Linked DNA regions of Homo sapiens. The protein of the gene in region 1 interacts with the protein of each later gene in a biochemical or structural test. Each region holds a gene or a part of one and is shown on either strand. Other genes may lie near its edges. The genes, in order: LACRT and NID1.

The links.
Region 2: the proteins of LACRT (region 1) and NID1 form a complex in vitro, tested with the Homo sapiens proteins (one study listed by BioGRID).

The regions. Positions count from the first base shown.
Region 1 is NC_000012.12:54,631,792-54,636,049, forward strand, and holds the start of LACRT (extracellular glycoprotein lacritin precursor), read right to left. Parts: upstream 3,105-4,258; 5' UTR 3,051-3,104; coding exon 2,993-3,050; intron 1,443-2,992; coding exon 1,389-1,442; intron 591-1,388; coding exon 450-590; intron 49-449; coding exon 1-48. UniProt on the Homo sapiens protein: Modulates secretion by lacrimal acinar cells.
Region 2 is NC_000001.11:236,062,182-236,066,593, forward strand, and holds the start of NID1 (nidogen-1 precursor), read right to left. Parts: upstream 2,910-4,412; 5' UTR 2,899-2,909; coding exon 2,674-2,898; intron 1-2,673. UniProt on the Homo sapiens protein: Sulfated glycoprotein widely distributed in basement membranes and tightly associated with laminin. Also binds to collagen IV and perlecan. It probably has a role in cell-extracellular matrix interactions.

The DNA.
Region 1 (4,258 bases):
TTGCAAGGGCTTGTTCTGTTAGTAAGATACTTTTCTCCACTATGGATTCTAATTTTGGAGCAGAACAATCACATCAGCAGAAAAATCACCTCATTTAAAGAGAACTCTGCATTGCCCCACCTGCACCCGCCCCCCACCCCCACTCCACCCAGGACATCATCCCTACAGAAAGTCCTAAAGTGCAGAAGTTTTGCTGAGGGCTCCAGCACTTCTCTCATAGGAAGTTGTGTGAGCCAGGACAGAAACCATGTATTGTGCAGGCTGCAACATCTACTATTGTGAAAACGTTGTGTGTGGGTGCAATGCACAATCCCATTTGTGCCTTTGTGTTCAGCTGTTTGAGTCTACCTGCTTCTCACCAGGCTTATCTCTGTGCGTGGAGGTGTGATGTGGGCCTGCAGCCAGAGACTTTTCTAGGTTGTTGATCTGGCATAGAGACAGAGACTTACTCAGGGGGTTTAGTTCCTGCCTGCTTGAGGTGACCTTGGCTGTCCCCTGAACTGCTGCCGCCGAAGTCTCCTGGGCTGTTGTGGTTGTCTCTGGGGGTGAAGCTGGTTCTGCTGGACCTGAGATCTCTTCATTAGGCTTAGCTGTGAATGCACAAATTGATGGATTTTAGCAAAGTGAAAGTGTTTGTTTCTTTTGGAATGGGTTGCAGGGCCCCAGGATACCTAATGTGTGCTGGGTGCCAGGATACAGAAGTGATATGGCTTAAACGCTGCCCCCTTAAGGGAGATAGCATTTCTGCATGCTGTGTGTCTCTTGGAATGCAGCGGGCAGGGTTGGGGAAGGATTTGGACTAGGGGATGGTGAGAATCGGGGAGCACTTCATAGAGAAGCTGGATCTTGAAGGCAGGATGTTAGCAGGAGAGGATGTACCAAAGGGGCTTCCCTGGGGGCAGGCAGTGAGTAAGAGGTCAGGCGAAGGCATGTGTGGGGAATGGAAACAAGTTCAATTTAGCTGATGTGGGTGCGACATAAAAGAGAGTCATGGAAAATGGGGTTGGAAAATGAGGTTAGAGGCCAGATAATGGTTATCTTGCTAAGGAATTGGGAGTAATGGGAGGTGTTTGCAGGTGAAGGTATTAATGCCATGTGAGACATTGCCCTTACCACTTAACCTCATGTTTCTCTCCCTTTTATTCACAATAACCTTTTCCCCATGCTCCCTATTGTCCTTGCCTCTCTGGGTCATCCTCTTTTGTCCTTAGCCTTGTACCATTTCAACCCATGCCACCTTCTTTATTATATTACCTGCCCCTCCCCATTACCACCAAGCACAGAATCCAGATCTCCTCCCACTGGCTTCTTCTCCCAGCCACCACTCACATCCCTAACTGTTAAACCTTCCCAACGAGGGCTAGGGCAGCAGGGAGAGGAGGACTCACAGGTCCCAGCTTCCTGGGCAGGATCAGCACCCGTCGAGTCAGAGGAGGCATCTTCTGCAATGGGGGAAACATGCCAGATGAGAGCAAGGACCGAACCGGACCTACTCGAGCCACCCTCCCCTCCCATTCCCAAAGCTTATCTCCTGGGAATGCTCATGGATAGAAGGGGATCAATTTCCCTTTGGGTTGGACATGCCCTTCCACCATATCAGCGGGTCTACTGGGGCACTCTCTGATGTTTAACTCCTGTGGCTTTTGAAATAACTTCCCCTCTGAGAAGTGTAATGTCTCTTGGAACAGTGCCTTCCTCCTGACTGGCCCCTGGCTTGGTAGGCTTCCCTGAGGTGTCTGTCATGGAGCTGGCCATGGTCAGAGGGGCTCAACCTCCTCTGTGGTGGAGGAGGACAGTATGTGGGGGTTATGGGGCCATATTTGAGCGATTTGCAGGATTGAGACCCCAGCCTTGATTCCCTTTATTCTTTCAACACAACATTTATGCAAAGCTCTGTGCCAAGAGATGGAGGTGCAGTGCTGAAGAGGGCAGACAAGACCCCTGCCCTGACAGAGCTTACATCTGTCCTTTTACGAAATTATTTAATGGCTGGTGTGACAGTGCTGGAAGGGAACGTGCAGCCTGGTGCGAGAAGGGCACATGGATCTGATTTGTTCCGCATGTGCATGGAAGGCCTTTTTGGGGAATTATATGTAAACTGAGATTTTCTAGATGAAAAATCATTGGCCAGGTGACATTAGAGTTGGTTGGGGGAAGGGGCCAGGGAGAGGGAAAGCATTCTAGACGAGGAAAGGACAAGAAGGAAGATCCTGATGTTCAAGGAACAGCAGGATCATCATGGCCCAAATAGTGCTTCTGTGGATCAAAAAAGGCATCCCAGCAGGGCACGGTGGCTCACGCCTGTAATTCCAACACTTTGGGAGGCCAAGGCAGTCGGATCACCTGAGGTCAGGAGTTCGAGACCAACCTGGCCAACATGGTGAAACACCGTCTCTACTAAAAATACAAAATTAGCTGGGCAAGGTGGCATGAGCCTGTAGTCCCAGCTACCCAGGAGGCTGAGGCAAGATAATCGCTGGAACCCAGGAGGTGGATGTTGCAGTGAGCAGAGATCGTGCCACTGCACTCCAGCCTGGGCAACAGAGGGAGACTCGGTCTCAAAAAAAAAAAAAAAAAAAAGGCATCCCTTCCTCCTAAGAGACACAGCCAGGGGCCAGGCTCACTGCTTGGCAAGTAGAGTGTCGGCCAGATTTTAGCTTCTACCACTCCTTGCCTGGGCACCCTCGTGTAGGGGACACCCTGCTCAACTACATGCAGGGGACACCAGAGAAGCCAGTGTAGCTGAGGCATAGTGGGTAAACAATGGTGTGTGAGGAGATGAGCTGGGAGGGCAGGCAGAGGCCAGAGAGTTCTGGGTTCCTCTGGCCAGTGGGGTGCAGAGGCCACGTGTGGAGAACTGGGAGAGGAGTCACTTGCAGAGGCAGGGAAACCAGAATAGCACTGAGAGAGGAGGAGAGGGGTGAAGGCAGGAGTGAGGGGCTCCTTGGACTGGGAGGACTCTTGTGGGGCGCAGAGGAAAGGCCATACTCACCAGCATAGACCAGGGCCCCTGCTACAGCTGCCAAGAAGAGGAGAGTGGTAAATTTCATTCTTTGGGATGAGGAGTGAGTATAACCACAGAATCTGCAGAAGGTCTGGGGAATAAGGATGCTGAAATTGCTGGGCCCTTTTAAGGATATCAAGGGCCAATGGGAACCAAGCCTGGAGAGGTGTGACTTCCGCATCCTCCTCCCCTTCTTCCCCAAACTGTCACCTGCTAAGTCAACAAGGGCTAGGTTGGGCTGGCTGATACCTGGGATCCTTGCAGGCAGGTCCTGGATAGGAGCCTTTCTCTAACTCCCAGCCATCCCTTTTCTTTCTCCCTCCTCCCTTCCCCACCACACCTGCCCTCTGGGTTCACACCCCTGGGCTCTCAGGGACGGTAGGTAGAGCACATTTCACTTGGGGAGATTCTGGGATGTGTCTGTTGAGGGTTCTGGTAGAGAAATCTTAATCTTGTCATCTCTCCAGGAGGAGGTTGAGGGCTCAGGGGATTACATTGTCCACCTTCTGTCCCAGTCTACATAGGACTCAGTGCAGGGTTTGAAGGTTTCCCCAAACTAAGTGAGCCCGTTTCCTTGGGAGACCACACCTAGAACACTTGAGGCCTGAGTTCCTGGCTGCTTTCTCCCCATGAGGGGATGGGTTTGAAGGCGTGTGTGCCTTCTCTGGAGTTGTTCTCTGTTCTTGACATTATCCAGCCCCTAAAAAGAACTCCTCCAGGCTCACATAGGCCTGTCAATCTCTGTCTTCAGGCCTACTCAATGGGACCCCACATTTCTGAGAGAATCTCCTGGTCAAAGCATGATGGTGGTTCACTGAAATTGGAGCTTGGTTCTGACTTCAAGTGGGGAGCTGACCCATGGTGTGAATAATCCAGAAAAGCAGATTATTCTAAAGAAGCTTCTCTTTGACTTGGCGTTTCTTCCTTTCCTGATCTGGGACTCTAGAGGTCTGGATTTTGAGTTCTGGCTTTGTCATATGAAAATGTTAGGATTTGAAAAGTGATAGGATTTTTATTTGTTGTCTAGGAGTTGTGGCTCCTATGTACAGCATAGTGGTGGAGATTAAGTGGGATAATATACGGCAAAGCATTTTTTTAGACAGCGAAGTTCTATGGAGTTGTGTGGGGTTCTTGTACCATCTTTCCAAGTAGGTTTTTGTCCAGGCTGGTGCTAAATGCTAGATATTAATAGAACGGGCCGTGGAGCAGGAGTCAGTTGAGGGGCTGAAGGGTGGAGAATAAGGTGCTGGATGT
Region 2 (4,412 bases), on another chromosome or scaffold:
CAGGCTGAAACAAAGTCCTCACTTGCATTTGGTCAGCAAGCCTCTGAAGTCTCTTTTGATCCACACCAGGTCTCCCTCCTTCTTTTTCCCCACCATGCCATTTATTTGTTGAAGAGAATGATAATCTTTTAAAGTTAAATCGTGTCAGCCATCTACTTAGAAATCTCTAATGGCCGGGCATGGTGGCTCATGCCTGTAATCCCAACACTTTGGGAGGCCAAGGCGGGCGGATCACCTGAGGTCAGGAGTTAGAGACCAGCCTGACCAACATGGAGAAACCCCGCCTCTACTAAAAATACAAAATTAGCCAGGCATGGTGGTGCGCGCCTGTAATCCCAGCTACTCGGGAGGCTGAGGCAGGAGAATCTCTTGAACCTGGGAGGCGGAGGTTGTGGTGAGCTAAGATTGAGCCACTGTACTCTAGCCTGGGCAACAGAGCAAGACTCTGTCTCAAAAAAAAAAAAAAAAAAAAAAAGAATAACCAAAAACTGATATTTAGCATTTCCTTTAATTATGAATGCAGGCAACAAAGCAGTCACTAATAGAAGTCACAGATATTTTCATATCACATCATAGTTGCTGCATGTGTCTCAGAATATTGCTCATGATCTTCAAAGTTCAATCGTTACCTGAACTGCCCTTGGATCCACTGCTACACCTTGTTATTTAATGTTGTTAAAAGTAAGCATATAGGCCAGGCGTGGTGGCCCACACCTGTAATCCCAGCACTTTGGGAGGCGGAGGTGGGTGAATCACGAGGTCAGGAGTTCAAGACCAGCCTGGTCAACATGGTGAAATCCCGTCTATACTAAAAATGCAAAAATTAGCCAGGCATGGTGGTGCGTGCCTATAGTCCCACCTACTCAGGAGGCTGAGGCAGGAAAATCGCTTGAACCTGGGAGGTGGAGGTTACAGTGAGCCAAGATCTCGCCACTGCACTCCAGCTTGTGCAACAGAGTGAGACTTCATCTCAAAAAAAAAAAAAAAAAAAAAAGTAAGCATATATTGGGCCAGGCATGGTGGCTCATGCCTGTAATCCCAGCACTTTGGGAAGCTGAGGTGGGCAGATCATCTGAGGTCAGGAGTTCAAGACTAGCCTGGCCAACATGGTGAAACCATGTCTCTACTTAAAATACAAAAATTAGCCAAGTGTGGTGGCAGTCATCTGTAATCCCAGCTACTCAGGAGGCTGAGGCAGGAGAATCATTTGAACCCAGGAGGTGGAGGTTGCAGTGAGCTGAGATTGTGCCACTAAACTCCAGGCTGGGGGATAGAGAGAGACTCTGTCTCAAAAAAAAAAATAAATAAATAAATAAATAAATAAAGTAAGCATATAAGCATATATAGTACATAAGAGCATAAGATGTGTGTTTTTTTAATATTTTGATCTGTATTTCAACATAATTGCCTTCCTTGGTCATCTTGTGGATTTTATTTTATGCATTTAAAACTTTATACTGCCCAGCATGGTGACACTCGCCTGTGGTCCCAGCTACTCAGGAGGCTGAGGCCAGAGGACAGCTTGAGCCAAGGAGTTGGAGGCTGCAGTGACCCAAGATCGCACCGCTGCACCCAGCCTGGGCAACAGAGCAAGACCTCGTCTCTCTAAAAACTAAAATAAAAGCGTTATACTGAAAAGGGATCCACAGGCTTCACCAGTGTGCAAAGGGGCCAGGGCAGTCAACCAACATGGGGGAGGGCTCTTTGTGGATCCAGACTTGAAGGGCTCATTCGTTTTAGGCAAAGCCTACAAGTTCCACGTGAGTGTTGTCTAAGGCGCAGTGTTCCCAGGCCAGACCGGGAGCACAGCCATTTCACGGGCAGGACAGGCTGCAGCCGCTGCGTTTGCAGTTCCAACCCCCTTCCCCCGGCCAACCCCCCACACTTCTGGAATGCACACAAGCCTTATATGAAATCCACATGGTGGGCGGCCGAGGAAGGCAGCGGCACGAAAGGACTTCAACAAGTTGACAGCGACCCCAGGCCCGGCCAGTCACGGGGAGGATCCAGGGAGCTGTAGGTCATCTGGTCCCGCTCCTCGTTTGGGGCCTCCGTGGTGACAATGCCTGGCCACAGGAAATGGGATCACTGGGAGCCCTGTGTTTCCCGCTCTGGACTCTGGACTCTGAAACGAGCCCAACTGGAAAGCAGCATCACTGCCAAGACACATCCGGAGTCCACACACAAATACAGGAGGCTGCCGGCGAAACTCTCCCGCAGCCACAAGAGTCCCGGGGCCCGCGCGCAGACTGCGATCCAGCTCCGGCTCTTGCCCTGCGGAGGCTCCGCGCGAGAACCTGGCTCCACCCGGGACCGGCCAGGTCCTAGCCCCGAAGGGACTGGACAGCCGAGGGACGCGGACTGACCTCCCTGCGGCGATGCAGCCCACAGCCGCCGGGGAGGAAGCTCCGCGGGGTCCATGGGTGCCGGGGTCACGGCCCGGGGCGCGCGGAGCCACCCAGACCCCGCGACCCGCTCTTCGGATAGCAGGGACCGGGTCGGGAAGACCTTCGCGGACCCTGCAGAGGCGGGAGACCCTGCGCCGTGCCCGGTGCCCCGGCGGCCAGCGGGTCCGGGTCCCCGCCTGCTACGCCCAAGTCCGTCCGGCTCCACGGGCGCCCCCGGCCCGCCGCGCCCTGCAGCCCCTCGCCCGCCCTCCCGGGGCTCACTCACGTAGACTGCGTCGATGTCGGATCTGTCGTAGAAGCGGAGCGCCCCACTCAGCTCCAGGGCAGGAGAGACGAAGTCATCCCCGTCCTCCAGCTCCAGGTCCCCCTGTCCGGGGCCGAAGGGAAAGAGCTCCTGGCGGCTCAGGCAGCCCACAGGCCCCGCCAGCAGCAGCGGCAGCAGCAGCGCCCGCGTCCACGCAGCCCGGATCCGGCTGCTCGAGGCCAACATGTTCCCGAACTGCGGTCCCGCAAACCCGGTCCCGCGGCCAGGACAGAGGAAGGCGGGGATGTAACCGGACGCCCCTGGCAGCCCCCTCTCCTCCCGCCTCCCGGCGTTCCCACCCCGGGAAATAGGGGAGGGGAGCGGAGGGGAGAGCGGAGGGCCCCGCCCCGTCCAGCGGGCGCGCCGCGGGGCAGCCCAATGGCCGCGAGGGGGAGGGCGAGGGGCGAAGCCGAACCTCCCGCCTTGGGCGCCGGTGCCTGCGATTCTCGAAACCAGCCCGACTCCCAGCGAACGGCGCCTCCGGGAGGGGGAGCAGAGCGCGGGACCCGCACCGTGGTCCTCTGATTAGGGTTGGGTCGTGGAGAGCCGGCGACGTGGAAACGCTCCGGATTCAGGAACGGCGCCCACCCCATTGCCGCTCGGCCGCGTCCGGGGTCCAATTCGCTTGACCCTGGTAGGAAGACGGGGTGGGAGCTGGGAATCAGCCAAGGGACAGAGCCACCAACACGTTCATGGGCTCATCCACCCATTCATTGCGCGTTTTTTGAGTGCCTGATCCTGTGCTCCCTATTGTGGAGGTTCGCCAGGAAACGGGGTCTCACCCTCCGAGGCAAAGTCACCAGTGTACAACACAAGCCAGTGTCAGATGGGGGCCCCAAGTCATCAAAGACATTAGGGCTGGAAAAACTGGCGGGGAAAGCTGCAGGTGGGACGGCGGGAATCAACCCGGGTGCTCTGGAAGGAATGGGATGTCATCAGGCGGCAGAGAAGGGAGGTGGAGGACCGAGCTGGGTTTATTCAGGGCACCATCCCCCAGCAGAGGATGTGGGGAGGGACCGGTTGAAGTACAGCCTTGAATCACAAATTTAGGAATTTGAATTCGCTCTGTCACTCGGAGAAGAAACTATTGAAAGTTCTTGACAAAGGGAGATAAGCGATTTAAGTGGTATCCTGAATAATCGGTTGATCGTTACTTTGGCACTAGGGTGAAAGTAGAGACAGGTAAGTTATTAGAGGACCAAGTCTAAAACATTGAAATGAAAGAAGGAGCAAATCCTGATTATAAGATTGGCATTGAAGAGGAGAAGAAACGAAGTTAAAATTGAGTTCAAGGGTTTGCACTTGGAGGACTGGAAAACCAGTACTGCCTTTTGACGTCAGGGAAGAGGATCTGGGACAGCTGGAGTTGGATATGTTTGATGTCAGACCTATCAGCGGTCAACAGGACGTCCCCGTTTCCTGTCAGCAGCTAAAAGTAACGACCTTGAACCTAGTTTATAATAATTTTTCAGAAAACAGCAAATTCTGTATAAAATTTAGGGGGCATGAGTTCTGAACCAGCAAAGACAGGAAGAAAAAGCAAAGGAAACATGCCTTCTAAGCAAAACACTTTTGATTTACTCATGAGAACTTGTCTTTTTCTTTTGAATTCATTCGCCATCAGAAATAACATTTATTACCCATCAGAGACAGCATGTGTTCTACAAGTATTCATTCATTTTGCACTCACAGTAACCCTA